Linked DNA regions of Homo sapiens. The protein of the gene in region 2 interacts with the protein of the main gene of each other region in a biochemical or structural test. Each region holds a gene or a part of one and is shown on either strand. Other genes may lie near its edges. The genes, in order: CASP10, PRDX6, GSTP1 and SFTPA1.

What was found.
Region 1: the proteins of PRDX6 (region 2) and CASP10 form a complex in vitro, tested with the Homo sapiens proteins (one study listed by BioGRID).
Region 3: the proteins of PRDX6 (region 2) and GSTP1 form a complex in vitro, tested with the Homo sapiens proteins (one study listed by BioGRID).
Region 4: the proteins of PRDX6 (region 2) and SFTPA1 form a complex in vitro, tested with the Homo sapiens proteins (one study listed by BioGRID).

Annotation. Positions count from the first base shown.
Region 1 is NC_000002.12:201,207,091-201,214,194, forward strand, and holds part of CASP10 (caspase-10 isoform 1 preproprotein), read left to right. Parts: intron 1-984; coding exon 985-1,093; intron 1,094-1,199; exon of another isoform or gene 1,200-1,377; intron 1,378-1,979; coding exon 1,980-2,472; intron 2,473-7,104. UniProt on the Homo sapiens protein: Involved in the activation cascade of caspases responsible for apoptosis execution. Recruited to both Fas- and TNFR-1 receptors in a FADD dependent manner. May participate in the granzyme B apoptotic pathways.
Region 2 is NC_000001.11:173,472,636-173,480,412, reverse strand, and holds the start of PRDX6 (peroxiredoxin-6), read right to left. Parts: upstream 3,079-7,777; 5' UTR 3,016-3,078; coding exon 2,921-3,015; intron 1-2,920. UniProt on the Homo sapiens protein: Thiol-specific peroxidase that catalyzes the reduction of hydrogen peroxide and organic hydroperoxides to water and alcohols, respectively. Can reduce H(2)O(2) and short chain organic, fatty acid, and phospholipid hydroperoxides.
Region 3 is NC_000011.10:67,579,589-67,586,880, forward strand, and holds GSTP1 (glutathione S-transferase P), read left to right. Parts: upstream 1-4,223; 5' UTR 4,224-4,255; coding exon 4,256-4,256; intron 4,257-4,545; coding exon 4,546-4,581; intron 4,582-4,875; coding exon 4,876-4,982; intron 4,983-5,096; coding exon 5,097-5,184; intron 5,185-5,549; coding exon 5,550-5,653; intron 5,654-6,515; coding exon 6,516-6,623; intron 6,624-6,800; coding exon 6,801-6,989; 3' UTR 6,990-7,065; downstream 7,066-7,292. UniProt on the Homo sapiens protein: Conjugation of reduced glutathione to a wide number of exogenous and endogenous hydrophobic electrophiles. Involved in the formation of glutathione conjugates of both prostaglandin A2 (PGA2) and prostaglandin J2 (PGJ2).
Region 4 is NC_000010.11:79,606,285-79,613,938, forward strand, and holds the start of SFTPA1 (pulmonary surfactant-associated protein A1 isoform 1 precursor), read left to right. Parts: upstream 1-4,654; 5' UTR 4,655-4,698; exon of another isoform or gene 4,699-4,854; intron 4,855-5,000; exon of another isoform or gene 5,001-5,034; 5' UTR 5,035-5,105; intron 5,106-5,294; exon of another isoform or gene 5,295-5,335; coding exon of another isoform or gene 5,336-5,357; intron 5,358-5,518; coding exon of another isoform or gene 5,519-5,541; coding exon 5,542-5,713; intron 5,714-6,027; coding exon 6,028-6,147; intron 6,148-6,904; coding exon 6,905-6,982; intron 6,983-7,452; coding exon 7,453-7,654. UniProt on the Homo sapiens protein: In presence of calcium ions, it binds to surfactant phospholipids and contributes to lower the surface tension at the air-liquid interface in the alveoli of the mammalian lung and is essential for normal respiration.

The DNA.
Region 1 (7,104 bases), on a different chromosome or scaffold from region 2:
CCTCTGATACTGGGAGTGGCATCCTGAAAGAAAGGAACTGTCTAATCTTTAGTGCAAATGAGATTTATCCTTTGTCCTGGGCTCTAGGACTTAAAAAAGAATCTTTGAAATTTTATTCAGATCACAATTGTGCAGTAAAAGTGAGTTGCAGAGTAGTCAGAATCCCCAGTTTTTCAATATGTGACTTCAGAAATAATGTGGCATAAATACCCCAAGGGGTTTAGACTAGAGTATAAAAACATGGTTTTGGACAGGCATGGTGGCTCATGCCTGTAATCCTAGCACTTTGGGAGGCTGAGGTGGGCGAATCACTTGAGGTCAGGAGTTCAAGACCAGCCTGGCCAACATGGTGAAACTCTACCTCAACCAAAAATACAAAAATTATCGGCTGGGCGCGGTGGCTCATGCCTGTAATCCCAGCACTTTGGGAGGACGAGGTGGGCGGATCACAAGGTCAAGAGATCAAGACCATCCTGGCCAACATAGTGAAACCCCGTCTCTACTAAAAATACAAAAATTACCTGGGCATGGTGGCGGGCGCCTGTAGTCCCAGCTACTCGGGAGGCTGAGGCAGAAGACTCGCTTGAACCCAGGAGGTGGAGGTTGCAGTGAGCTGAGATCACGCCATTGCACTCCAGCCTGGGTGACAGAGCGAGATGCTGTCTCAAAAAAAAAAAAAAATTATCTGGGGGTGTTGGTGGGCACCTGAGGCAGGTGGATCCCTTGAATCCGGGAGGCAGAGGTTGCAGTGAGCCGAGATCGCGTCACTCACTCCAGCCTGGGCAACAAGAGTGAGACTCCATCTCAAAACAACAACAACAGCAACAACAAAATAACAACAACAACAAAAACATGGTTTAAACAACTGGCATGGGGAGATACATCCTGCTCTTCCTCACAGTGGATCCATTGGAGTGGTTGGTTAGAAACATTTAAGGCCCTAAGATAAGGATTCCTACTAAGTGGCTCTATCTATTCTTCAAGAGGGCAGCTGTGTACAGGATGAATCGGAACCACAGAGGCCTCTGTGTCATTGTCAACAACCACAGCTTTACCTCCCTGAAGGACAGACAAGGAACCCATAAAGATGCTGGTAAGAAAGTCTGGAACAGTTTATCAAATGCAAATTGGGGATCTTAAAATTATTTTTTATTTTCACATTTTCTTTCTGTGACTTTTATCTTCCATATACGTGTAAGGATGATATCATGTTTCTGAGCCTCTTATATATCCCTGGGGAGTCATCAGTCTGCTAAAGAGTGGCAAGAATCTTTGACTATTCACAATTCTGAATAGAGGAGAGCATGTACTGGGGGAGAGCCTGCTGGATTGGCACGAGACAACTTGGGCGTGAGCTCCAGCTCCACCACTAACTAGGTGTGTGATCATGGGAGAGTCAAGAGACCTTGGCTTCTTCAACTGTGAAACAGGATGAAACACTGGCCACTGCCGATTCTCAGGACTGTTGTGACAACACTGGGTATTACGTGATAGGAGATTCATTGTAAGATTTTATGGTTATGAAAATAAAAATAATCCAAAGCTTTAGGCTATTTGCTGTGCAAATTTTGTAACTATTAGCATTGTTTCAGTTTTTTTTTTCTTTGAGACAGAGTCTTGCTCTGTTGCCCAGGCTGGAGTGCAGTGGTGCAGTCCCAGCTCACTGCAACCTCTGCCTCCCAGGCTCAAGCCATTCTCGTGCCTCAGCCTCCCGAGTAGCAGGGATTACAGGCGTGAGCCACCACACCTGGCTATTTTTTGTATTTTCAGTAGAGATGGGGTTTTGCCATCTGGCCAGACTGTTCTCAAACTCCTGACCTCAAGTGATCCGCCTGCTTCGGCCTTCCAAAGTGCTGAGATTATAGGTGTGAGCCACTGTGCCCGGCCTTGTTTCAGTTCTTCATTTTGTTTTGCATCATTTTATTATTTCCCCTTTCTCTCTCTCTCTCTCTTTTTTTTTTTTTTTTGTTTTTAAACAGAGATCCTGAGTCATGTGTTCCAGTGGCTTGGGTTCACAGTGCATATACACAATAATGTGACGAAAGTGGAAATGGAGATGGTCCTGCAGAAGCAGAAGTGCAATCCAGCCCATGCCGACGGGGACTGCTTCGTGTTCTGTATTCTGACCCATGGGAGATTTGGAGCTGTCTACTCTTCGGATGAGGCCCTCATTCCCATTCGGGAGATCATGTCTCACTTCACAGCCCTGCAGTGCCCTAGACTGGCTGAAAAACCTAAACTCTTTTTCATCCAGGCCTGCCAAGGTGAAGAGATACAGCCTTCCGTATCCATCGAAGCAGATGCTCTGAACCCTGAGCAGGCACCCACTTCCCTGCAGGACAGTATTCCTGCCGAGGCTGACTTCCTACTTGGTCTGGCCACTGTCCCAGGCTATGTATCCTTTCGGCATGTGGAGGAAGGCAGCTGGTATATTCAGTCTCTGTGTAATCATCTGAAGAAATTGGTCCCAAGGTGAGAGCTCTTTTTTTTCTTCCATTTGTAATTAATTAGTTTTATTTATTTTTTATTTTACTCTCATTCAACACCTTTGGTAAGGGTGAGAGTTCTACGTTGTTCTATCCATGTACCTGTTCAACCATCTGCCTACCCTCCTGTTTATCTATTTATCCATCTATCCACCCATTCATCTATCCATCCATCTATCCACCCATTCATCTATCCATCCATCCATCTGTCCATCCATCCATCCATCCAGCAACCTTGTATTGAGTACCAGCCTGGACCTGGAAAGGAAGATACAGAGTTAAAAAAAGACAGAGTCCTTGCCCTCAGGTTGCTTACAAGCTAGAGGGATAGACAAACAAATAGACGGGGAAGGGCATCCCCAGCTGGTAAGTGCACATTGTGAAGTATAGGTGTTATGGGAACATGCAGAATGAGTACCTTGCCCAGATTTGAAGGATCAGAGGAGGCTTCTAGAAATGACAAATAGATGTTAGGTAAAGAATCAGGTGAAAGATGTGCTGGGCAGAGGGAATAGCATGAACAAAAGCATGGGGGCCTTTTATTTGTTCGTTTATTTATCACTCACTCTTACGTCCTGAGCACCTATGTGCTATCTTTGGACTTCTATTTGCCACTGCTCTGACAGCTTCCCTTCTGTCTCTGCCACATGCTGTCCTCTTGGCACCTTTAGCCATACCTAGAGGCCATGGGCTCCTCCATGAAAACGTCTCCAAAGTTGCCATCTCTGGCCCACTCATCTCTGAATTCCTGGGGGCAGAGACCCTGTTTCATTCAACTTTATATCCTCAGCCCCTGACCTGATATATTGTGAGCTTGTTAAACATTTGCTGGGCCAATGAATGACTTGCTTGAGCCTGTCTCATTAACATCCCGCTAGATATCCTACCTCTGTTTAGCCCTTGGACCTCACATTCAGCATGCATGTTTCTGAGCTCATCTTCCCAGCTCTCTCCAGGAGCTCCTACTCCTGAATTTCCATTTGAAGGAATGGCCATAGTGCTCTTCTGGGAATTCAGGATTGGAACCTTGAGTCAACTTTGCTTTTCTCTCTTCTTTACCAGCCCCTCCATTCTCATCACAGACATCAGAGGCTAATGTCTATGGCTTCAGGAACAAGGCAATATTTATTGAGAGCGTACTATGTGCTTACTGTACTGGGTACCGAACTGGGGACAGGGGGTGCAACTGTGTACAAGAGAGACAAAATCTGCTCTCCAGGGAGCTAAAAGTCCAGTGAAGGAAGGACAGATAATAAAAATATAAGTGAATATTTAAATTATTATTATTTTAAAAATTCAACAATATTAAAAGGAGACAGTATACATGCATGATTAAGCAATGTGTGGTTTTTTTTGGTACTCCAGAAATTTCTGTTATTTTTAATTGATACTTCATAACTACATATTTCAGGGTTATAATTTGATGTTTCAATACATATATGTGTTGTATAATGATCAAATCAGGGTAGTTAGTGTATCCATCACCTCATGCATTTATCATTTCTTTGTGGTGAGAACCTCTAAAAGCCTCTCTTGTAGCTATTTTGTAATATACAACACCTTACTGATTGATCGATTGATTTAAATATGGGATCTCACCATGTTGCCGAGGCTGGCCTTGAACTCCTAGGCTCAAGCAATCTTCCTGCCTTAGCCTTGTAAGTAGCTAGGATTATATGCTCAAACCACAGTGCCCAGCTCAGAATGCCTTACTGTTAACCATAGTCACCCCACTGTGCAGCAGAACACCAGAGGTTATTTCTCCTATCTAATTGTAACTTTGTACCCATTGACTAACCTCTCATCTTCCCTTCCCTCCTTCTCTCTCTCATCTTTGTAATTGCTGTTCTAATCACTGCTTCTATGACATCAACTTTTTAAACAAAGATTCCACATGAGTGAGAACAAGCAGATTTTTTCTGTGTCTTGCTTATTTCACTCTGGGCTCATTCATGTTGTCAGACATGTCAGGATTTTCTTTTTTTATGGCTGAATGGTATTCTGTCACGTATAAATATCACATTTTCTTTATCCATATATCCATTTTTGGACCCTTAGGTTGATTCCATATCTTGGCTATTGTAAATAATGCTGCAGTAAACTGGGAGTGCAGATATCTCTCTGACATATTGATTGCATTTTCTTTGTTTATATACTTAGTATGGGGATTGCTGGATCATATAGTATTTTTATTTTTCATTTTATGAGGAACTGGCATACTATTTTCCATAATGGCTGTACTAATTTTCAATACCACCAACAGTGTGTAAGTGTTCCCTTTTCTCCAGATCTTTGCCAATATGTGTTTTCTTTTGTTTCCTCGATAATAGCCATTCTAACTTGAGTGAAGTAGCATCTCACTGTGGGTTTTTTATTTTTATTTTTATTTTTTTTTAGACAACATCTTGCTCTGTCAGGCTGGAGTGCAGTGGCGCAATCTCAGCTCACTGCAGCCTCTGCCTCCTAGGTTCAAGCAATTCTTCTGCCTCAGTCTCCCGAGTAGCTGGGATCACAGGCATGTGCCACCACGCCTGGCTAATTTTTGTATTTTTAGTAGAGACAGGGTTTTACCACGTTGGCCAGGCTGGTCTGGAACTCCTGATCTCAAGTGATCCACCCACCTCAGCCTCCCAAAGTGCTGGTATTACAGGCGTGAGCCACGGCGCCCAGCTGTCACTGTGGTTTTGATTTGCATTTCCGTGATGATTAGTGATGTTGAGGGGTGGAAGCGGGTAAGTAGGAAAACTCCCACCACAACTATAGTGCTAGAGTGAAGTAGGGCTGAGACTGGGGTTGGGCCTTCCAAGGCGGAAGGAAGTCAGGGGTGGAGGCCAAGTTGGGCTGATTTTCCTGCTGCTGCTAAGAGAAAACCAATTAATGGAAGAAGGTTGGGGGTAGGGTTAAGGATAAGTATTTGTTGAGGCTCTCATGTATTGGATGATGAGAGGAATCATGCTATAGCTAAAATAAAGCCAATGTCACCAATGCGATTGTATAGAATTGCTTGGAGGGCTGCTGTGTTAGCATCTGCTTGGCCATGTCATCAGCCAATTAGTAGAAAAGATATAATTCCTACACCCTCTCATCTGATAAAGAGTTGGAAAATGTTGTTGGCAGTAACTAGAATTAATATTGTGGTGAGGAAAATAAGTAGGTATTTGAAAAACTGATTAATGTTCAGATCTGCCTTCATATATCATATTGAGAATTCTATAATAGATCAAGTGATAAATAGTGCTACTAGAATAAACATTATGGAGAATTAGTCTAGTTTGAAGCTTAATGAGAGTTTTAGGGTTTGGATTGTTATTCAATATCAGTTTGAGATGATGGTTTCTTGGTCTGTACACATAAATGTTGTGGGAATGAGGCTAATGGTGAAAGTGCATGCGACAGCTATTTTTACATAGTATGGATATGAGTTCTTTTTGTGAGGGTTGATAAAGGTAATAATAATTGGTAAGGTTAAGGAGATTAAGGTTATTATAGTAATGGAAAAATACATGATTATTACTTTTATTTGGAGTTGCACCAATATTTTTGGTTCCTAAGACCAATGGATAACTCTCATCCTCTAAAAGTTGAGAAAACTATGTTGTTAGGCATGGAGGCATGAGTTAGCAGTTCTTGCAAACTTTATCGGTAAATAAGAAGTTGCGGACTTCTATTATTAGACCACAATCTAACATTTTGATTAAACTATATTTACAAGGTATAAGTCCTATAATAATTTTAGGATTTAGAGATAGTAAGAGAATTGGTGAAAGGTGTATGAGTATTAGTATGTTTTCTCGTGTAAAGGAAGGTTTAATGCTGTTAATATAGTATGTTAGTGTTCCTTGTTGTGTTGTGACAAGTATATAGAGGGAATAAAGGGCTGTGATTAATATATTAAGTCCTATAAGCATGATGGTAGTGTTTGATCAGGAGAATGAAGCCGTTGTTACAAGGAGTTCTCCTACTAGATTAATAGTGGGGGGTAGGGCAAGGTTGGTGAGATTTGCTGTAAGTCATCAAAAGGTTACTAGTGGAAGTAATGTTTGACGTCCTCGAGAGAGTAATATGATTCAGCTGTGGATTCACTTGTAGTTTGAATTTGCTAGGCAGAATAGTAGGGACGAAGTAAGTCCATGGGGAATTATGAGGATAATTGCACTGGTAAAACTTCAGGGGGTTTGAATGAGGATAGCCACAGTAACAAGTACCATGTGGCTTACGGAGGAATGTGCAATAAGTGACTTTAGATCAGTTTGTCGTAGACAGATGGAGCTTGTCATAATATGCCTCATAAGGATAATATCAGGAAAGGATAGGCTATATGTTCTGTCAGAGGGCTGAGGATGAGGGTAAGTCGCATTTTGTGTAGCCGCCCAATTTTAGGAGCACTGCTGCAAGTACTATTGAGCCAGCCTTAGGTGCTTATACATGGGCTTTGGGAAGTCATAGGTGAAGTCAGTATAGGGGTATTTTTACTATGAAGGCCATTATACATGCCAATCACATGAGATTGTTGGATCAGGAGATTGGTAGTTCTTGATATTAAATGTTATTATTATCATGCTCAGTGAGCCTAGGATATTTTGGGCATAAATAAGTGTAATAAGTAGGGGGAGGGATC
Region 2 (7,777 bases):
CACATCCCCATCAACTTAAACCATCCTAAACCAGATGATTTAGGCAGGATCCTAAACTAGTAGATAACTAAATCTAGCCTAGATGCCAAGTTGACCTTTCTGAAGTTTCCCTGAGCACAGAGAACAAGCAAAGACAAGGGCACCTCCTTCCTACTTACGGCTGCCACTCAACTCCCAAGGTTTCAAGAAGGAAAAAGATCTTCTTACAAAAAGGATGGAGGGCCCTATGGCAAGACTGGGAGGAAAGTTAGTATTTTTTTTTAAGATTGTGGAGGTGTGCACTATGTTCACTTTACTATGAAGGGCAAAAGGAAGAACATAGAGTATATCTTTTGAAGTAGATAATATCACTATGAGTAAAATCTAGGCCTTAGATTCTATGGAAAACGATCTATTTAATGGTTAGATGAGACTTAACAGAAGGTCTCCAGAAGTTGAGAAGAAATGGAACAGGGCGTTTCCTCCTCTATCGTTAAAAGGAGGATAAATTAGAAAAGTTAGGAGTTCTTTTTCCACTGTGAGTCCATAAAGACTGTTTTGCTGAATCATGCAAAAGGAACTGGTTTTAAGCCAGTTCACGTCCTTCCCTCCCTCAGAAGTGAAACTCCAGTTTACCTCATGGCTACAAATAGGATAAACTCCAAGAATGTCTTACCTTGGCCTTCCTTCCCCTCCAAGTCTTCCTACTGCTGCACTTAAGAGTAATTCAGTGACATGCTCCCATTTTCTTACCCATTTTCAAAAGACAAAAGGTTTCCTCCTTCAAGAGAATGGTTCCCACTTACTAAGCCCCAGAAGACCCCTGGAAAACACATATTTTGCTTAGTGAAGATGTACTATGAAGAAGCTGCTTCTACCACTTAAAGAAACAGCGATAAGGTAAACTCACCCAATGTAGCACCCAACCTCTTTAGTTGTTTACAATGATCAGGGGTAAGGTAGAGAAATACATTTTAATTTTTTCTTCTCAAAAATACCTGGATCAAAAATTGACAGTCTGATTTGGGATCATATACAGAATAGAAAATTGGAAAAATCAGGCAAAAATCCATGTGTTATAAACATATAAAAGGCTCAAACTTCTCTTCCCGGTAAGGTAGGGAATACTATACCTGATCCTAGGCAGACTTGTATATTAGTTAATAAATGCAGATATTTCTACCGTGTTCCTAACTATGGCTCCCTGATAAAGTACCACTTTTGATCAAATCTAGATGGATCTAGAGGCCAATAAACATTAACAAAACCCCAAAAAAGTATGGTTAGCTTAAAAAGTGACAGCATTTATAACTGTTGGCACAGTAAATACGTTTTATGCTAATATTTAATCTATACAAGCTAAGAGTTCTGGAAATAGTTTATGTTTCATGGGGATGGGGGATGAGGGCTGCAGGTAGAAATGGGAAGGAACACAACTCTAAAAATCCCAAGGATTGCTGGAGAAATATTACTACCTAGATCCTAAGTATAAGAATGGCCATAAGCTGTATTTCTAAAGTATTTTTCTGCATTCAAGGTTTGAATATTCCATTTCTCAACCTTTTTCTGGCCTAGTCCTATCTTTCACAAAGCTTAACTTTTCCCTATTCAGTGGCTGGAAAAGGGACTTAAGAGGTTATAAAGGGTTGGATAGGCATATGATGTGTAAGAATCTGTCCCTGGTTCTCTGCACAGCCCTGTCCAATCACTGATTAATTTCATAAGCCTGTCTCCCTGGATACTGTATATAAAAAGGATATAATCTGGGGAAGAACTGTTGTCAAGCCTTGGAGCCCCACAGTGTAGTGGGACCACTAGTACTCCAGAACCATAATATAACTAGACATGCCTGGAATGCTTCTGATGAAAACTAAGCAACTTCCAGTTTGCTGATTCAGGAGCTGTTAAAAAAAAAAAAGGGCAACACCGATTTACTACTCCTATCCATAATGGTAAAACTGCCAAGTCAGATCACAGGTCATCAATTTGGCTATCATCAGCAAGCTCATGTGCTAGAAGCAAGGTAGAAAGCGGAGGGGACAGTGAGGGGCAAGCCACTGGAAAACAAGAGAGTCTCAAAGTTGGGGAGTACACGTGTCCTGGAGCCTGGAACGGCCATCACTAGCAAGAATAGGCCACTCCAGCGGAACAGCGTCAGAAAGTCCTTCCCTCCAAGTGTTGCAAGTTCTGGAATCTCTGAAGGCACACCTACGCAGAGTGTTCTTGGCTCTTCCTAAAGCTGTTATCAAATCATATCTTGGCCATTGGAGGCGGCTCTGGACAAAAAGTCTTTCGGCCACCTACTTGGCAGCTAGTGGTTTTAAATTTCACATTTTGTGCCCAGAAGCCTGCAAATACCACTGCACCCTCAGATGATACGTTGGCCTTCCTGTAACCTATAGCCAGCAGCTGTGTCCTCCGACTTTGGCTTTAGACACCCATCCTCCCCAGGGAGCAAATTCCAGAACGGAGGGTGGGAGGGCGGTGCGACCCTGGGCACTAGTCCGGGGAAGTGATCGTCAATGCCGCCCCGCCCCTGCGCCCTCGGCCTGACCACGCTACCTGCACAGTTTACTAAGACGAGTTAAATGGACAACAAACCCTCCCGCGGGCGGTGAGTTTCCAGAACCCGCAGAACACAATTTTATCCTCCCCACCCCCCACCTTGGCGTGGCCTTGCCCAGCCACGCCGGAGGCGGGGAGGCCAGGAGGGATCGAGTGGCCCGCGCAGGGCAGGCCGAACGGGTGCCAGCTCCCAGCAGCGCAGCCGACGCTGAGCAGAGGCCACACGGCCTGGCGCGCGCCGGAACCAGTGCGGGGGAAGGCGAGGGCGGCGCAGGGGGCTGAGCGGCCGGGAGGACGGCAGGGAGAAGAAACAGGGAAGGCACCTCCGAGTCCGGCGCAACCGAGGCCAGGACAGGGCTACGCGGTGGCCACTTACGAGTCTCCCAGAAAGTCGTGGAAACGGATGCGGCCGACGGTGGTATTGGCCTCAAAGTTGGGAGCCACGTCCCCGAGAAGCAGACCTCCGGGCATGGCGACGGTGATGAGGGGGCGCCGCTGGGACAGCAAGCAACCGGTTGGTTCTGGCGAAGAAGCAGCCTGTCCCAGCGCGCGGAGGAATAAACGAAGGCGCGAGGGGCGGGGACTGGGGCGGCGGGGGCGGGGCCGCGGGAGGCCGGCCGCTGGGGGCCGGGCCGCGGGGGCTGGGCTGGGCGCGGGGCGGGGCGGGGCTGGGCGCGGGGCGGGGCTGGGCCGGGCCGGGCTGGGGCCGGGACGCGGCGCGAGCTGGACTACCGCGGTCGCTGTTGGTGGCGCCGCCGGGCCTGCGACTAGGTGGCATCCTTCAGACACTATAGGCCGTCTCTGCACACGTGATGCGGGGCTCGGTCACGTTGCCCCCTGGAAGCTTGAGGATGCGCCAGGTTTGACTCTGCAGGGCGTACGCGCTTTAGGGATGGAAGGAAGAGGAACGCGGCAGGAAGGCGAGCCCCAAGGTGGAGAATCGCCTGGGCGCGCAGGCTGCGGCGGCTTCGCACAGCCGCCCTGGGCGCTGCACGGGTCCGCGCGCACCCTGCTGCGCACCCACTCGCGGCCAGCTCCCTACAGAGGAGTGGAGTGACTGCTCGACTACCACCCCTCTTTTAGTGTGAGCGTCTGGAGTCCTGACCGCCCCAGCCAGCCCAGCTACGATGAACTGTCTAAGAGGATGTGGCAAGACCCAGAAGTATGGGTGACCTTATGTCAGAGGAAGTGGCTTTCTTATTGCAGCAAAAATTCCCGTACCAATGTCAGTGCTAGGGTAATGTAACTAAACTTTTATTTATTTTTATTCTGCCCTCCCCTTTCTGTTTGTTATGAACCATAAAATATTCAACACAATTATCTTGAAATCTAAATATAAAATTTAAAACATACTCTTTGAGACCTACTGTGTGCAGGTCAACTCTGTCACCCAGGGAGGTGGGCGGCTTAGATTCATTTATTTGCTATGAGCCAAGTACAAGGTAGATAAGATGCCTGTCCTCTTGGAGCTTTCCTTCTTGTGAAGGGAAACCGGTGACAGACAATAAGCACACAAACCAAAATATGTTAGACAGCAATCAGTCGTATTCAGAGAACTAAAATAGGGTTATGTGCCTAGAGGGTGACTGGGGGGCTGCTTTGGTTTGGGTGGTCTGGTCTGGGAAAGCCACCAGGATAATGTAGGTAAACTAGTCAGCTCACGGTAGGTGCTCTGGAAATGGTAGCTATCGTTTGGATGATGACACTGGCTCATGCAGTAACTCTTGCTTTGCCTGCTGTGTGCTGGACACTGTGCCAGGCCATACAGTGGAGAAACACAGTCCCTGCTGTTACAGGGAAGGCATATTTATATGCAATTATAATAAAATGTAGGGTAAATTCTGATGGGGGAAGGTGTAAATGATTGGAGTTCAGAGATGAGAAAAATCCTCTGGATGGGGCTGGCAGGTTTAAGGCAGGGGCATGGCAATGTTGAGAGTAGTGACTCACATACTGTGATTTGCGTTTTCATCACAGTGATGTGTTGGTGCGTGCATGCTAATCATATTTACCGAGTTCTTCAGTGACCCAGGACTTGCAGTAAGATTACTGGTAAAAATTTCTAGCCACTTCACAAAACCGTTTAAAGCTAATGTAATTTAATCTCTAATTTGGCTCCAAGTTTTAACAGCTCCTTGTTTTAACTCCCTTTGTAGGGAAGAAAGAGAATAGTTGGGAAAGAAGAGTAGTTTGGCCTAAGGCACTGTTAACAATATGTTGTGGAAATCAGCTAGAAAACACAATACTCTATAAATATGGAGAATGAATACAGAAACAGATTATTGATGTCTGTCAAAGGCATAATTATATTATTGTCTGTTGTAAATTAAGCAAATATAATAAAATACTCATTAGAATTTACAGTGCCAGAAGCTGTACACTGGCAATGCTTCTGCACTCTGTGAACTTGTTTGCTTTAGACTTTGGAGCATTTTAAATTGTCTTGAATTAGCTGTCCACTGAAGGGGGCCAGCCCCTCCACGCCTGTGGGTGTTTCTCGTCAGGTGGGATGAGAGACTGAGGAAAGAAATAAGACACAGAGATGAAGTATAGAGAAAGAACAGTGGGCCCGGGGGACGGCGCTTAGCATACGGAGGACCCGGCACTGGTCTCTGAGTTCCCTCAGTATTTACTGATCACTATCTCTACTATCTCGGTGAGGGGGATGTGGCAGGACTATAGGATAATGGTGGGGAGAGGGTCAGCAGGAAAACATGTGAGCAAAGGTCTCTGTGTCGTAAATAAGTTTAAGGAAAGGTTCTATGCCTCGATGTGCACATAGGCCAGATTTATGTTTGACTTTACACAAACATCTCAGTGCAGTAAAGAGCAGTATTGCCTCCAGCATGTCTCACCTCCAGCCATAAGGCGGTTTTTTCCATCTTAGTAAATAGAATGTACGTCGGGTTTTACACCGAGACATTCCATTCCCAGGGATGAGCAGGAGACAGATGCCGTCCTCTTATCTCAACTGCAAAGAGGCCTTCCTCTTTCACTAATCCTCCTCAGCACAGACCCTTTACTGGTGTCAGGCTGGGAGACGGTCAGGTCTTTACCTTCCCACGAGGCCATATCTCAGGCTGTCTCAGTGGGGAGAAACCTTGGACAATACCCAGGCTTTCTTGGGCAGAGGTCCCTGCGGCCTTCCGCAGTGCATTGTGTCCCTGGGTACTTGAGACTGGAAAATGGCGGTGACTTTTACCAAGCATACTGCCTGCAAACACATTTTTAACAAAGCACACCCTGCGTAGCCCTAAATCCATTAAACCTTGAGTCAACACAACACATGTTTCTGCCAGCACAGGGTTGGGGCTAGGGTTACAGATTAACATCATCTAAAGGCAGAAGAATTTTTCTTAGTTCAGAACAAAATGGAGTTTCTTATGTCTTCTTCTTTCTGCATAGACAACAGTAACAGTCTGATCTCTCTTTCTTTCGTCCACATCAGCATTTTGAAAACATGATTTTTCATAAAAATATCTGGATTTTTGTCTCCTGAAAGGTCAGAAGATCTAGCAACACAGCAACACCAGGCCCATGTTCCATCTGGCAAACAGTGGCTGCTGAGTAGCCTTTTAGAGGGCAATGTTCTCTGTTACTCAGAAGGTCCTCTGCCAGTTACTAACATTAGAGTAGAATTGGGAGGAAAAAGAAATAGTTCTTGCATTCTTATCTGTCAAAACTGTGCAAATGAAAGCTTAACTAAGGGCTGTATATTTCAAGAAAAAAATGATCATGTTTCTTTGTGAAAGTAGAGAATGTTCCATGAACTTAATATGCAAACAAAGTCAGAAGAACGCTGTTCTGCCTGGCCTTCGTAGGTAATTGAGTTTAACATCTGACTTATACCAAAGGTAGGTGCTCTGTGGACTGGGCCCCATTCCAGAGGGAAAATTTTAAAGCTATTTTCCTGAGGGTTAGTGAGATGTATAATGGGAAAGGAGGAGGGGAGGAAGGACAGAGGAGACATTCCAGGGAAAGACCGGAGTGTGGAAAAGGGAGAGCTTGACTAAGAAAGGATTTACTTTCCTTAGAGAGAGGGTGGAGGCTCTCCTATCAGAAAAAGTGTTTTCATACAGCTATAAGGGTCGGAGAGAACCTTGAAGTCCTTACAGTAATCTGAGGGACAGGAAAGAATGGATTTCAGGCATTTCCAGAGGGCTGTGACTCTGGGATGACTCACATCTTCTCTTCTGTCTTTACTGCTTTGACAGAAGAATAAAATGAACAGATTAGCAATGGGCATTTGGAAAAACAACAGTGCACCATGATGCCTGTCTCTCTCACTAGATTGTGAACTCCTAAAGGTTTGACTATATTTTATTAATGAATATTTGTGACCTGTTACACATAGTGGGCATGAGGACTACGTTGTACAAAGTATTAGAGAAACATTGGGTCGCCTTCCTGCAGCCACAACAGCAAAGTTTCTTGTTTGTCCACAGCTGGGAGTAAAAGAGCAAGATGTCTCTAGTTATACAGTCATGTGATACAACATTGGACCACATATACTACGGTGGTCTCATAAGATGATAATGGAGCTGAAAAATTCCTTTCGCATAGTGATGTCTTGAGGATCCTGACCCTGTGAAGCCCTAGGCTAATGTGTGCATTTATGTCTTTGTTTTTAAGTTTAAAAAGTTTCAAAAGACAATAACCTTTTAGAATTATAAAAAAGCTTATAGAATAAGAATATAAAAAAGAAAATACAGTATTTTGTATAGCTATACAATGTGTTTGTGTTTTAAGCTAAGTGTTATTACAGAAGAGTCAAAACATTAAAACAATTTTAAAGTTTATAAAGTAAAAAAGTTATAGTAAGGTAAGGTTAATTTGTTATTGAAGAAAGAAATTTTTACACATGAATTTAGTGTAGCCTAAGTGTACAGTGTTTATAAAGTCTACAGTACATTCATTCACCACTCACTCACTGTCTCACCCATGGCAACTTCCAGTCCTGCAAGCTATATTCATGGTAAATGCCCTATATAGGTGTACCATTTTTTATCCTTTTTTTTTTCATTTTTTTTTTTTAAGACAGGGCCTTGCTCTGTCACCCAGGCTGGAGTGCAGTGGTGTGATCATAGCTCACTGCAGCCTCAAGCTCCTGGGCTCAAGCAGTCCTCTCACTTCAGCCTCCTGAGTAGCTGGGACTACAGGCACATGCCACCATACCTGGGCAATTGTTTTATTTTTGGTAGAGACGGGGTCTTCCTAACCTGTGTTGCCCAGG
Region 3 (7,292 bases), on a different chromosome or scaffold from region 2:
ATGTCACTGCTGAACACTGACCCTGGTGCAGGCTAAACCGAAGTTAGCCTCTGCTACCCTCTGCTGGGTGAGGCACTGGGGAGAACAGTGGGACTGAATGGGGCGGGCTTTCTCCCTCCCACACTTCCCCTGGAAACACCCAGCACCAGCACATTAGAACATGGGGAGCCACCTTCCCCAGCGCTGCTTCCCAAGGTTCGGAAGGGGAAACTCTGACCTCAAGCTCTGTTTGAAGAGCGATAGCAAAGGGGAGAGGTTGGCTGTGGTTTGGTGGTGCTTATCTCCTTCCTTTGCTTTGAAACCACAGGCTGGCATACTACCCGAGAGAATGACCAGTGCCACCAAGGGAAGGGCACAAGCTCACTGGTTCCAGGGGAGACATCTCAGGGGACAGGAACATCCCCTGACGCTGAATGAGTGCAGCACACAGACGGAGAATACACACAAGAGAAATCATGAGGACATGAGAGAAGGCACTGGCAATAGGAAGTTACAAAAAGCAACAAAAAGAAAGAGTAGATATAAAAACAATAATCGAAGAAAGCCAACAACAGATGGGATGAATCATACGAGGTATGCGACTCATGGATGAAGAGGTGAGTGATGAGATCAGCTGGGGAACTCTCTCCCAGGAAAGACAAACCAGAAGAAACACAAATGACATCGAAGTGGCCAGGCGCAGTGGCTCACGCCTGTAATCCCAGCACTTTGGGAGCCCGAGGCAGGTGGATCACTTGAGGTCAGGAGTTTGAGACCAGCCTGGCCAACATGATGAAACCCTGTCTCTACTAAAAATACAAAAATTAGCCAGGTGTGGTGGCAGGCACCTGTGATCCCAGCTACTCAGGAGGCTGAGGCAGGAGAATCACTTGAACCAGGAAGCAGAGATTGCAGTGAGCTGAGATGGTGCCAGTGCACTCCAGCCTGGGCAGTAGAGTGACAGCCTGTCTAAAAAAAAAAAAAGGCAGTAAAGTGATAGGAGGATAGATTAGAAGGGCCATTTTCCAGATAGTGCAAGGAAGAAAGAAGAAGAAGAAGAGGAGGAGGAGGAGGAAGAGGAAGAAGACGGAGAAGAGGGCATCTCAGAAGAAACAATGGAGATACATTTCTCAAAACTGAAGAAAGATGACCAACCTCAGACCGAAGGGCCAAGAGGCCAAACCAGAGAGACAGCTTGGCAAGCCAGGAAGAGCACCAAAGCTAGACAATTAGAGTGAAATTAAAGAAAACCCAAGGTGACAAAAATTTAAAAAGCTTCCTTGTGACCTCAGTCCATTGGTGAAAATTTAAAAAAAAAAAAAAAAAAAAAAGGACAGCCTGGGCAACATGGTGAAACCCCATCTCTACAAAAAATACAAAAATTAGCTGGGTGTGGTGGCACATGCCTGTAGTCCCAGCTATTCGAGAGGCTAAGTAAGGCAGGAGGATCACTTGGGGCCAAGAGTTCCAGACCAGCTGCGGCAACATACATGTTGTGGGAAGTCAGGCACCCCGAACGGAGGGACTGGCTGAAGCCATGGCAGAAGAACATAAATTGTGAAGATTTCATGGACATTTATCACTTCCCCAATCAATACTCTTGTGATTTCCTATGCCTGTCTTTAATCTCTTAATCCTGTCATCTTCGTAAACTGAGGATGTATGTCGCCTTAGGACCCTGTGATGACTGCGTTAACTGCACAAATTGTTTGTAGAGGACAATTGTTGTGTGTTTGAGCAATGTGAAATCTGGGCATCTTAAGAACAGGATAACAGCAATTTTCAGGGAACAAGGGAGATAACCTTAAAGTCTGGCTGCCTGTGGGCTGGGCAGGACAGAGCCATACTTCTCTTATTACCGCAAACAGGTAAGAGAAATATCGCTGAATTCTTTCCCCAGTAAGGAATATTAATAATTAACAGCCCTGAGAAAAGAATGCATTCCCAGGGCCGGGCCACTGAAATGGCCTCCCTGAGAGTGCCTGCCTTTATTCAGAAGTAGAAAGGGATGAAACACGCCCTAGTCTCCTGCAGCACCCCCAGACTTGATAGGATTAGGAAATTCCAGCCTGGCAAATTCTAGTCAGACCGGTTCTCTGCTCTTGAACCCTGACAGTGCGTGCACAGTGGGACCTGGAAGTTCATTAGTGATTCTAGTTTCGCCGTGACCTTCTGCCCTGTGATCTTTTGTCGCCCTTGAAGTATGTGATCTCTGTGACCCACACCCTGTTCGTGCACTCCCTCCTCTTTGAAAATTGCTAATAAAAACTCGCTGGTTTTACGGCTCAGGGGGCATCACGGAACCTGCGGACATGTGATGTCTCCCCTGGACACCCGGCTTTAAAATGTCTCTCTTTTGTACTCTTTCCCTTTATTTCTCAGGCCAGCCGACACTTAGGGAAAATAGGAAAGGACCCACGTGAAATATTGGGGGCTGAATTTCCCCCGATAATAAGTCTCTTAAAAAAGACTTTTAAATGAAATTTCTTTGTTTTTTAACTTTTATTTCTGTTTTGGGGGTACATGTGAAGGTTTGTTACATAAGTAAACTCGTGTCTTCGGTGTTTGTTGTACAGAATATTTCATCACCCAGGTATTATGCCGAGTACCCAATAGTTCTCTTTTCTGCTCCTCTCCTTCCTCCCATCCTGCACCCTGGAGTCAACCACAGTGTCTGTTGTTTCCTTGTTTGTGTTATAAGTTCTCATCATTTAGCTCCCACTTACAAGTGAGAACATCCAGTATTTGGATTTCTGTTCCTGCATTAGTTTGCTAAGGATAATAGCCTCTAGCTCCATCCATGTTCCCACAAAAGACATGATCTAGTTCTTTTTAATGGCTGCATTAAATGAAGTTTTAAAGATACAACATAAACACCAACCTCTTCCCCACCACAAAAATCCCTTGCTGAATTTGATTACACTTAAATTAACGAGTTTTGTTTCATGAAAGACTCCTTGGACAAACTTGACAGTTGATGGAATAGGAGAAGCTGTCTGTCATGTCTAAAGCCAACAAGAGATCAATATCTAGAATAAATGGAGATCTGCAAATCAACAGAAAGTAGGCAGCAAAGCCAAAGAAAATAGCCTAAGGCACAGCCACTAAAAGGAACGTGATCATGTCCTTTGCAGGGACATGGGTGGAGCTGGAAGCCGTTAGCCTCAGCAAACTCACACAGGAACAGAAAACCAGCGAGACCGCATGGTCTCACTTATAAGTGGGAGCTGAACAATGAGAACACATGGTCACATGGCGGCGATCAACACACACTGGTGCCTGTTGAGCGGGGTGCTGGGGAGGGAGAGTACCAGGAAGAATAGCTAAGGGATACTGGGCTTAATACCTGGGTGATGGGATGATCTGTACAGCAAACCATCATGGCGCACACACCTATGTAACAAACCTGCACATCCTCTACATGTACCCCAGAACTTCAAATAAAAGTTGGACGGCCAGGCGTGGTGGCTCACGCCTGTAATCCCAGCACTTTGGGAAGCCGAGGCGTGCAGATCACCTAAGGTCAGGAGTTCGAGACCAGCCCGGCCAACATGGTGAAACCCCGTCTCTACTAAAAATACAAAAATCAGCCAGATGTGGCACGCACCTATAATTCCACCTACTCGGGAGGCTGAAGCAGAATTGCTTGAACCCGAGAGGCGGAGGTTGCAGTGAGCCGCCGAGATCGCGCCACTGCACTCCAGCCTGGGCCACAGCGTGAGACTACGTCATAAAATAAAATAAAATAACACAAAATAAAATAAAATAAAATAAAATAAAATAAAATAAAATAAAATAAAATAAAATAAAAAAATAAAATAAAATAAAATAAAATAAAGCAATTTCCTTTCCTCTAAGCGGCCTCCACCCCTCTCCCCTGCCCTGTGAAGCGGGTGTGCAAGCTCCGGGATCGCAGCGGTCTTAGGGAATTTCCCCCCGCGATGTCCCGGCGCGCCAGTTCGCTGCGCACACTTCGCTGCGGTCCTCTTCCTGCTGTCTGTTTACTCCCTAGGCCCCGCTGGGGACCTGGGAAAGAGGGAAAGGCTTCCCCGGCCAGCTGCGCGGCGACTCCGGGGACTCCAGGGCGCCCCTCTGCGGCCGACGCCCGGGGTGCAGCGGCCGCCGGGGCTGGGGCCGGCGGGAGTCCGCGGGACCCTCCAGAAGAGCGGCCGGCGCCGTGACTCAGCACTGGGGCGGAGCGGGGCGGGACCACCCTTATAAGGCTCGGAGGCCGCGAGGCCTTCGCTGGAGTTTCGCCGCCGCAGTCTTCGCCACCAGTGAGTACGCGCGGCCCGCGTCCCCGGGGATGGGGCTCAGAGCTCCCAGCATGGGGCCAACCCGCAGCATCAGGCCCGGGCTCCCGGCAGGGCTCCTCGCCCACCTCGAGACCCGGGACGGGGGCCTAGGGGACCCAGGACGTCCCCAGTGCCGTTAGCGGCTTTCAGGGGGCCCGGAGCGCCTCGGGGAGGGATGGGACCCCGGGGGCGGGGAGGGGGGGCAGACTGCGCTCACCGCGCCTTGGCATCCTCCCCCGGGCTCCAGCAAACTTTTCTTTGTTCGCTGCAGTGCCGCCCTACACCGTGGTCTATTTCCCAGTTCGAGGTAGGAGCATGTGTCTGGCAGGGAAGGGAGGCAGGGGCTGGGGCTGCAGCCCACAGCCCCTCGCCCACCCGGAGAGATCCGAACCCCCTTATCCCTCCGTCGTGTGGCTTTTACCCCGGGCCTCCTTCCTGTTCCCCGCCTCTCCCGCCATGCCTGCTCCCCGCCCCAGTGTTGTGTGAAATCTTCGGAGGAACCTGTTTCCCTGTTCCCTCCCTGCACTCCTGACCCCTCCCCGGGTTGCTGCGAGGCGGAGTCGGCCCGGTCCCCACATCTCGTACTTCTCCCTCCCCGCAGGCCGCTGCGCGGCCCTGCGCATGCTGCTGGCAGATCAGGGCCAGAGCTGGAAGGAGGAGGTGGTGACCGTGGAGACGTGGCAGGAGGGCTCACTCAAAGCCTCCTGCGTAAGTGACCATGCCCGGGCAAGGGGAGGGGGTGCTGGGCCTTAGGGGGCTGTGACTAGGATCGGGGGACGCCCAAGCTCAGTGCCCCTCCCTGAGCCATGCCTCCCCCAACAGCTATACGGGCAGCTCCCCAAGTTCCAGGACGGAGACCTCACCCTGTACCAGTCCAATACCATCCTGCGTCACCTGGGCCGCACCCTTGGTGAGTCTTGAACCTCCAAGTCCAGGGCAGGCATGGGCAAGCCTCTGCCCCCGGAGCCCTTTTGTTTAAATCAGCTGCCCCGCAGCCCTCTGGAGTGGAGGAAACTGAGACCCACTGAGGTTACGTAGTTTGCCCAAGGTCAAGCCTGGGTGCCTGCAATCCTTGCCCTGTGCCAGGCTGCCTCCCAGGTGTCAGGTGAGCTCTGAGCACCTGCTGTGTGGCAGTCTCTCATCCTTCCACGCACATCCTCTTCCCCTCCTCCCAGGCTGGGGCTCACAGACAGCCCCCTGGTTGGCCCATCCCCAGTGACTGTGTGTTGATCAGGCGCCCAGTCACGCGGCCTGCTCCCCTCCACCCAACCCCAGGGCTCTATGGGAAGGACCAGCAGGAGGCAGCCCTGGTGGACATGGTGAATGACGGCGTGGAGGACCTCCGCTGCAAATACATCTCCCTCATCTACACCAACTATGTGAGCATCTGCACCAGGGTTGGGCACTGGGGGCTGAACAAAGAAAGGGGCTTCTTGTGCCCTCACCCCCCTTACCCCTCAGGTGGCTTGGGCTGACCCCTTCTTGGGTCAGGGTGCAGGGGCTGGGTCAGCTCTGGGCCAGGGGCCCAGGGGCCTGGGACAAGACACAACCTGCACCCTTATTGCCTGGGACATCAACCAGCCAAGTAACGGGTCATGGGGGCGAGTGCAAGGACAGAGACCTCCAGCAACTGGTGGTTTCTGATCTCCTGGGGTGGCGAGGGCTTCCTGGAGTAGCCAGAGGTGGAGGAGGATTTGTCGCCAGTTTCTGGATGGAGGTGCTGGCACTTTTAGCTGAGGAAAATATGCAGACACAGAGCACATTTGGGGACCTGGGACCAGTTCAGCAGAGGCAGCGTGTGTGCGCGTGCGTGTGCATGTGTGTGCGTGTGTGTGTGTACGCTTGCATTTGTGTCGGGTGGGTAAGGAGATAGAGATGGGCGGGCAGTAGGCCCAGGTCCCGAAGGCCTTGAACCCACTGGTTTGGAGTCTCCTAAGGGCAATGGGGGCCATTGAGAAGTCTGAACAGGGCTGTGTCTGAATGTGAGGTCTAGAAGGATCCTCCAGAGAAGCCAGCTCTAAAGCTTTTGCAATCATCTGGTGAGAGAACCCAGCAAGGATGGACAGGCAGAATGGAATAGAGATGAGTTGGCAGCTGAAGTGGACAGGATTTGGTACTAGCCTGGTTGTGGGGAGCAAGCAGAGGAGAATCTGGGACTCTGGTGTCTGGCCTGGGGCAGACGGGGGTGTCTCAGGGGCTGGGAGGGATGAGAGTAGGATGATACATGGTGGTGTCTGGCAGGAGGCGGGCAAGGATGACTATGTGAAGGCACTGCCCGGGCAACTGAAGCCTTTTGAGACCCTGCTGTCCCAGAACCAGGGAGGCAAGACCTTCATTGTGGGAGACCAGGTGAGCATCTGGCCCCATGCTGTTCCTTCCTCGCCACCCTCTGCTTCCAGATGGACACAGGTGTGAGCCATTTGTTTAGCAAAGCAGAGCAGACCTAGGGGATGGGCTTAGGCCCTCTGCCCCCAATTCCTCCAGCCTGCTCCCGCTGGCTGAGTCCCTGGCCCCCCTGCCCTGCAGATCTCCTTCGCTGACTACAACCTGCTGGACTTGCTGCTGATCCATGAGGTCCTAGCCCCTGGCTGCCTGGATGCGTTCCCCCTGCTCTCAGCATATGTGGGGCGCCTCAGTGCCCGGCCCAAGCTCAAGGCCTTCCTGGCCTCCCCTGAGTACGTGAACCTCCCCATCAATGGCAACGGGAAACAGTGAGGGTTGGGGGGACTCTGAGCGGGAGGCAGAGTTTGCCTTCCTTTCTCCAGGACCAATAAAATTTCTAAGAGAGCTACTATGAGCACTGTGTTTCCTGGGACGGGGCTTAGGGGTTCTCAGCCTCGAGGTCGGTGGGAGGGCAGAGCAGAGGACTAGAAAACAGCTCCTCCAGCACAGTCAGTGGCTTCCTGGAGCCCTCAGCCTGGCTGTGTTTACTGAACCTCACAAACTAGAAGAGGAAGAAAAAAAAAGAGAGAGAGAAACAAAGAGAAATAACCATGGTCACTGTCCTGGAGCACCACA
Region 4 (7,654 bases), on a different chromosome or scaffold from region 2:
GGTCCAGGAACCATTTAGTTCCCTCAGGTATTTGAGCTAGCAGGGTATACGGATTGGGAATCATTGAATGTATTGGAACCACAGCCTCATTAACAAGGAGGTGGTTCTGAACTAGCCTCCATTTCTAGTTGGGTTTTTGTACCCCCAATATTGGGGTATTACAAGGGCTATTGCAGGGTTTGAGTGGGCCCTCCATCTTCAAGTTATCAATGATGGCTTCTAGTCCTTTCCTAACCTCTAGTTTCAGGGGATATTGTTTCTGGTTAGGAAAGGAGGTGGGATCCTTAAGATGGACCCAGACTGGTATGGTAGTTGTGGCTCTGACAATCTTCCCTAGAGTTGCCCAAACTTCTGGGTTAATATTGGTCTCTACTAGGATGAGACAAAGAGTTTCCCTAGGGGCCATCAGAATGATGGTCCCCACATGGGCCGGAATATCCCTACCCAACAGAGGAGTTGGGCTTTCAGGCATAATTAGAAAAGCTTTGGTGAACAACCCCAGGTACAGCTAAGGGGTTGGAAAAAATATCGGGTTAAAGACCTTCCTGAGATGTCCCTCACAGTCATGCTAAGAGAGGAGAGGGGGCCTGGATTCAAGAGGAGAACTGAGAGACCAGTCCCAGTGTCCAAAAGGAGGTCCACTTTCCTCTCTTCGATTTCCATGATTACCCAGGGCACCTTGATGATAATGGTGGTCTGGACTACAGGAGCCAGGAGAGGAGCCCTGGGACCTGTCAGTCCTGCTGCTGGACCATTTGGAAGACTGGCTCTGGACCTGGTGACCAGCATGCCCAGGAACAGTCCACCCTCCAGTGGTCCCCACTGCAGATTGGACAGGGTTGAGGTAGCTTCCTCATGCTGTCTGAGAAATTCTTGAAATGCCCTGATTTGCCACATCTGTAGCAATTGACAGGTGCACCCTGGGAATTCTGGGGTTTGTGGGCTTGTCTGCTGGCCATTAAAGTCTCTGTCTCTTTCCTGTATTTCCTCTCTCTCTTGTGCCTACCTATCTCTATTATAAAAAACCAAGGTGGGTACTTTCAGAAGGTTCTCTAAAGTACTCTCTTGTCCCAGAGCCTGTTTTGTAGCTTCCTCCTGATATCAGGGGCTGCCTGAGTAGTAAATTTATGCTTTAGGATTGGTTGTCCCTCAGCTGAATCAGGGGATAGACAGGTGTGCTTTACTAAGGCCTCCCTTGGCCTTTCCAGGAAGGCAGTGGGATTTTCATCAAATCCCTGGTCAATCATGGATGATTTAGTATAATTGAGAGGCTTGGTCCTGGTCTTACATAAGCCCTCCATTATGCACACCTGAAAGTGCCTCCTCTTCCAGGCTTCCATCTTGTCATTGGAATCCTATTTAGGGTAATCCATTGATACTGCTTCTCTCCCAGTTGGATAATGTTTGCCCCCTTCCCTGACACTATATGTGATACTAAGCTCATCCCCAAATCTCTCTGCTGCTTGCAGAGCAGCCTGCTTCTCAGTGTCTGTCAAGGTCTGGTTCAAAAGCAACATAATGTCTCTCCAGGAGAGATCAAATATTTGGGTGAAATTCTGGAAAGCCTCTATATATCTGTCGGGGTCATCTGAAAAGTTCCCAAGATCCCCCTTAATTCACTTTAAGTCCTGTAGGGAGGAGGGGAACTGGACCTTACTGGGCCCAAATTCACCAGGCATTGGTTGAAGGGGCAAGAGTGAGGTTGGGGCTTGTCTAGGGTGAGGATTTTTAGGAGGGGGCAAGTGAGAGGCTGAAGCTGAATAGGGAGGTCGAGGTAGACCCAGAGGGGAAGAGCTGGAGGGGGCTGGCTTCTCTGCTTGGGGTGCCTCTGGGATTCATATCTTTAGTTTCCTAGGCTTGCCCCTTGCAGTCCTCCCTGAGATGGCAAGCAGGAGGGCTGTATCAATCCTACACTGTCAGCAAAGGTCTGGATTGCCTTGCAAGGTATAGAAAACCTGCACATATGGGACCTCAGACCATTTGTCTTCATGTATACAGAAAAGGCCTGATCACCGGATACTATCGAAATGAAAGGTTCATTCCTGAGGTCCACCCGGTCCTTCATAATTTGGCCAAACCTTTGTGCAGAGGGCTATGAGGCATTTTTCTTCCAGATTAAGAGGATCAAAGCAGTCCCATTGGTTCTGGATACACTCCAGAGGGGTATAAGCTGGGAGTGGTGAAGAGAGATGGTTGCCTATTCTGAAAGACAGAGAATAGAGGCATGCCTCATTCCCTTCCTTCTTTAGTGAAAACTCAGGGTGTGATGGAGAGAGAAAGCAAGACTGTGGACTCTGAGGTGGCTTGGCATGGGCGCCCAAGGACTGGCAGTGTGAAGAGGATATCCCTGCAGAGGGAAGAAGCCCAACGTGGAGGGTGAGGCCCCGAGGAGAACGAGAAAGATACTGAAGGAGAGCGGACTGGACCGGCGGGGGCAGTGGAGCCTAAGCAGGGGGAGGAGGCTGTGGACACAGCTGAGTGGCCTGGTGTGGGCACTCGGAACTCAGCAGGAACTACAGCAATTCTTAGAGCTAAGAGTGACAAATTTGTGTTGGGAGAACCATCTTCTTAACGACATTCTTTAGATTCACTGGTGCCATGTGCTGGCAAACTGTAACTGTTTCAACATCAAACACACGTAGTGCCCCCTGCAGCCCGCAGGTGGGTGCTCGGCACCCCCTGGTGGTCAGTGGTAGGCCTCACGAACGAGTCCACATTGCTACAAATCAATCAATGGGCAACAGAGACAGTGTGATGAGGAATGGGATCTTTACAATAGCCCCAAAGTGCGTCCTCATAACATAGTCACTGATTAAAACCAGAAAAAGAATGTATTTATGGTAGTGAAGCGTGACACCCACCACCTTAATTCAATGATCAACAAGAACATCATCAATCTTGGGGCAAACTAAAGTCACATGCCGCCCGGTAGAATGGGAGAAGAGCGCAGCAGGATGTCTATCGCATTTCTGCTGAAGTTACAGAACCTGAATCTAATCATGAGCCAATACATTAAAAAAAAAAAAAAAAAAGTGAGGGGCATTCTACACAGTAACTCTCCTGTGATCTTCACACTGTGTTCAGGTCATGAAGGTGAAGGGAAGACAGAGGGCCTTTGTGGGTTTCAGGACCCTGGAGAAGCGTGACAACCGAATACGGCACATGGCTCAGAAATGGATCCTTTGCTATAAAGGACACTATTGGGGCATTGGGTACATTTTGCATAGGGCCTGAAGGCTATTTGGAGTTATTATATCCATGTTAATTTCTTGATTATGGTTATAATGCGAAAATGCCTTTGCATGAAAAACACATTAAAGTATTGGGGTGTTGGGGTTTCATGCTGACAACCTACTTTCATAGGTTCAGGGAAACATATTTGTACCGTGCCTGCAATTCTTCTGTAAATTTGATGTTTCAAGATAATAAAAACAAAAAGGAAACTGAGCCTCAAAATGTTACATAACCTGACTGAGTCCACATGGGTAATAAGTGACAGCTCTGGGTGAAAACTCAGGTGTGCCTTTCCCCTAAAGTCACGCCCTGCCCTGCCAACCACAAGGCCCTGCACATCTGAGTTGGCCTCTGTTCCTGCTCATCACCTGCAAAACAGCCCTGCCTCCCCACAGCCAAGTTGCTGGAGCTGCGCCCCACCTGCCCCCACCCTGCACTGGCCTGACTCCCCCATTCCACACCTGGCCCAGCACCCACCACATGGTGTGGCAGACAGCACTGGGGCAGCTGAAAGACTCCATGCTACAAATTGGCACTGCCCAGCTTCCTGCTTCTGGGAGTGGGGTCCATTGGCTGAGCTTCCGCTCCCTGGAAGAGCTCCAGACTCCTCAATGGTTTGGGATTTTTCAAACCAATTCCAAATAAGCCAGGGGAGATTTTCCTGTCTTGGTTCCCATCATTACCACCTCCACAGTTGGAGATTCCCTCCTAATCCAGATGCTCAAACCAGGACCTCAACAACTAGGGCTTCATATATCACTGGGACACTTAGCATAATCACCATTGCAGGTTGCCAGACATCACCCAAAGTGATGTTCTACCAAAGACAGAAACTGCAGCTCTCCCGTGACCTTCCAGGTGCTGCCCTGACTCCTCCAGCTGAACCTGCTAGGGCAGAGGGAAGTGGAACGTGCAGCATATTTGCCTGCCACTCTGCCCATGTGCCCACCAACTCAGCTGCAGGCTCCAGGGACACAGGCTGGTGGGGGGGCCTGGGGCTCATGGCTGAGCCAGGTCGCAGGACAGACAAGTTGGCCTGGATCAACCTGACCAATCTCAGCTGGAGCAGTGAGTTCTTCATTGTCTGAATCTAAACCAGGAACCCAGTGGGGCTTCCTTAGTGCCTGTGTAAGGGCTCTCGGCTTTCACTGCTAAGGAGCTTGCTAGGGGCAGGGTGGGTGACCTCAGCCAAGGGGGGGATTTCTCTTCTTACAGACCTGGAGTTCCTCTTTCGCAGGTTCTGTGCTCCCCTCAAGGGTCCTTTGAGATCCTCCAGCCTGAGTGCTCTTGGGGAAACATGCTGTGTAAACACTATGCCCATTTCCTGCCTGGAGCACAGGTTTTGTGGTAGGGCTCTCAGGGGTGAGGAGGAAGCCTGGCAGCCCCCACATCTATAAATGCTGCGTCTACCTTACCCTCTGACTTGGAGGCAGAGACCCAAGCAGCTGGAGGCTCTGTGTGTGGGTGAGTTTAGCCCCATCCCCTAGGTGTTCTCCAGCTTGAGGATCGCAGGCAGAGAGGACCAGCCCAGCAGCCACAGGCCTGACCAAAGCCCAGGCTGGGAAGGAGGGCAACTCCCCATTTTCCACTGGGAGGTGTTTCACAGCACAGTCAACATAGGTGACCTGCAAAGATCCTCATGTTTGTTATTTTCTTTGGCCAGATCCATCCCTACAGGGTTCAGCAGGGCCTACAGGAGGGGCAGTGAGAGAACAGACCCCAAAAAGAAAGGGGACTCCATGACTGACCACCTTGAGGGGGGCCAGGCTGCGGGCCCCGTTCATCTTTTTTCATTCTCAGGTCGCTGATTTCTTGGAGCCTGAAAAGAAAGTAACACAGCAGGGATGAGGACAGATGGTGTGAGTCAGTGAGTGAGTGACCTGACTAATAGCCTGGGAGGGACAGGGCAGGTTTTCTGCAGAGCACGGAAGATTCAGCTGAAGTCAGAGAGGTGAAGCCAGTTTCCCAGGGTAACATAGTGAGGCACTGAAAGAAAGGAGACTGCACTGGAGCCCAGGTCCCCGGGCTCCCCAGAGCTCCTTACTCTTCCTCCTCCTCAGCAGCCTGGAGACCCCACAACCTCCAGCCGGAGGCCTGAAGCATGAGGCCATGCCAGGTGCCAGGTGATGCTGGGAATTTTCCCGGGAGCTTCGGGTCTTCCCAGCACTCTGGTCTCGCCCGCCCTGCCTCTCGGGCTCTGCCCAGCTTCCTGAGTCCTGACAGAGCACAGTGGGGGAGATGTTGGCAGAGGTGGCAGATGGGCTCACGGCCATCCCTCCTGCAGGAGCAGCGACTGGACCCAGAGCCATGTGGCTGTGCCCTCTGGCCCTCAACCTCATCTTGATGGCAGCCTCTGGTGCTGTGTGCGAAGTGAAGGACGTTTGTGTTGGAAGCCCTGGTATCCCCGGCACTCCTGGATCCCACGGCCTGCCAGGCAGGGACGGGAGAGATGGTCTCAAAGGAGACCCTGGCCCTCCAGGTACTGTGCTGCAGACCCCACCCTCAGCTGAGGGACACAGACCCCTTTTCAGGAGGCCCATCTGTCCAGGCCCCTAGGCTGTGGGCCATAGTGAGCTGGGGGCTATAGTAAGCTGGGTGGGACTTCAGTCTGCAGGGCTGGTGGGTTCCTGGGGCCCTTATGATGGCGCATCCTGGAGAGTCTGTCCTCATAGTGCCCACGGAGTGATAGAGTGATAGCTGAGCCAGCCCTGGTGATAATGGGCATCGAGTCTCACTAGCTCCAACCAGTTGTGGGTGACAGATCCTACACATCCATGTCTCTTTTCTCTGCAGGCCCCATGGGTCCACCTGGAGAAATGCCATGTCCTCCTGGAAATGATGGGCTGCCTGGAGCCCCTGGTATCCCTGGAGAGTGTGGAGAGAAGGGGGAGCCTGGCGAGAGGGGCCCTCCAGGTGAGCAGGGTGGGGCAGGTGGGCAGTGGAAACATGGGCACAGCGACCCTGAAGTCAGTTACACGGGGATGATGGGGATCAGACAAACCCTACAGGTTCCCCAAGGGCATTTGGCTCAACCTAAGTAAGAGAGGATAAGCTTGAGGGAGAAAGCTGAGGTGTCTGGGGAGTGTGGTCACAATTCAGGGAAAGGCAGGTGTGGGAAGTCCTCCGTGCCTCATGACCACCGATGGGGACACACTGAGTCAGGTGTGGGATGAGGGACAGCACTGGGAGGCAGGGGAGGCATGTCCTGGGATGGAGGCCCTGGGGGCTGTCTGAAGGGTGAATGCGGACGAGGCATCCAGACAGACGGTGTGATCAGGAGCCCCACAGACAGAGGGGAACTTTGAAGCTCAGAGCGGTAAGCAAGTCCATCAGGGCAGTGCAGAGAGCATCATGCTTGCCCTTGGTGGAGGGTGCGGGAGAGGGACTTGCCCCACAGAGGCGGGCAGACAGAACCCCTCGAGGGACAGAGCAGGAAAGAGGACAAGGGGTGGGGGTCTCAGCAGGGGCAAGGCTTCACTAAAGAATAGGGGACCACGGGGTGTGGAGACACACTGGAATCTTGTGGACCCTCTGAGCCTAGGGTCTGGGTGGCGCCTAACAGCAATGAAAGGGCAGAGTTCCAGGATTGCAGATGGCAAAACACCTGCGTGGCAGCAAGTGGGAGTCTTCACTGGCCTGCCCCTCCTTCTGTGTGGGGCACTCTCCACAGGGCTTCCAGCTCATCTAGATGAGGAGCTCCAAGCCACACTCCACGACTTTAGACATCAAATCCTGCAGACAAGGGGAGGTAAGGGGACCCCCTGGGCCTCACGGGGTAGGAGTTTCCCACAAATTCCCCTCATTCTCAGCACCAGCTTCTAGAACATAGAGATTACAAATAGGCATGCACATGCAGGTCTTGGGGAAAGGAATGACGCTTGCTTTTCTGATGTCTTTGAATGGCCCAGAGGAGACAGAAGCAGACACAATTCACTCCCCATTTCATAGGAAAGCAAGTTCTCCACCTGCCTTGCTTTCCACTGAATTCCAGGAAATTGCACCATTTCTGGCAATAAGTAATTGTTACTTAGGTGAATGAATAAATGGAGGAGAGTCTAAAAGTGAATTTAGAAAACTGCAATTGGAAGAGGAAGAGAAGACACAGAGAGAGGCAGAGATGGAGAGACTGGGGAGAATCTGGTAGCAGAGACCCCAGGTGAGGGAGGTGGCTTAGAGACAAAGTGGTCAGTGGCCTGACCCGGACTCCTCTGCTCTCAGCCCTCAGTCTGCAGGGCTCCATAATGACAGTAGGAGAGAAGGTCTTCTCCAGCAATGGGCAGTCCATCACTTTTGATGCCATTCAGGAGGCATGTGCCAGAGCAGGCGGCCGCATTGCTGTCCCAAGGAATCCAGAGGAAAATGAGGCCATTGCAAGCTTCGTGAAGAAGTACAACACATATGCCTATGTAGGCCTGACTGA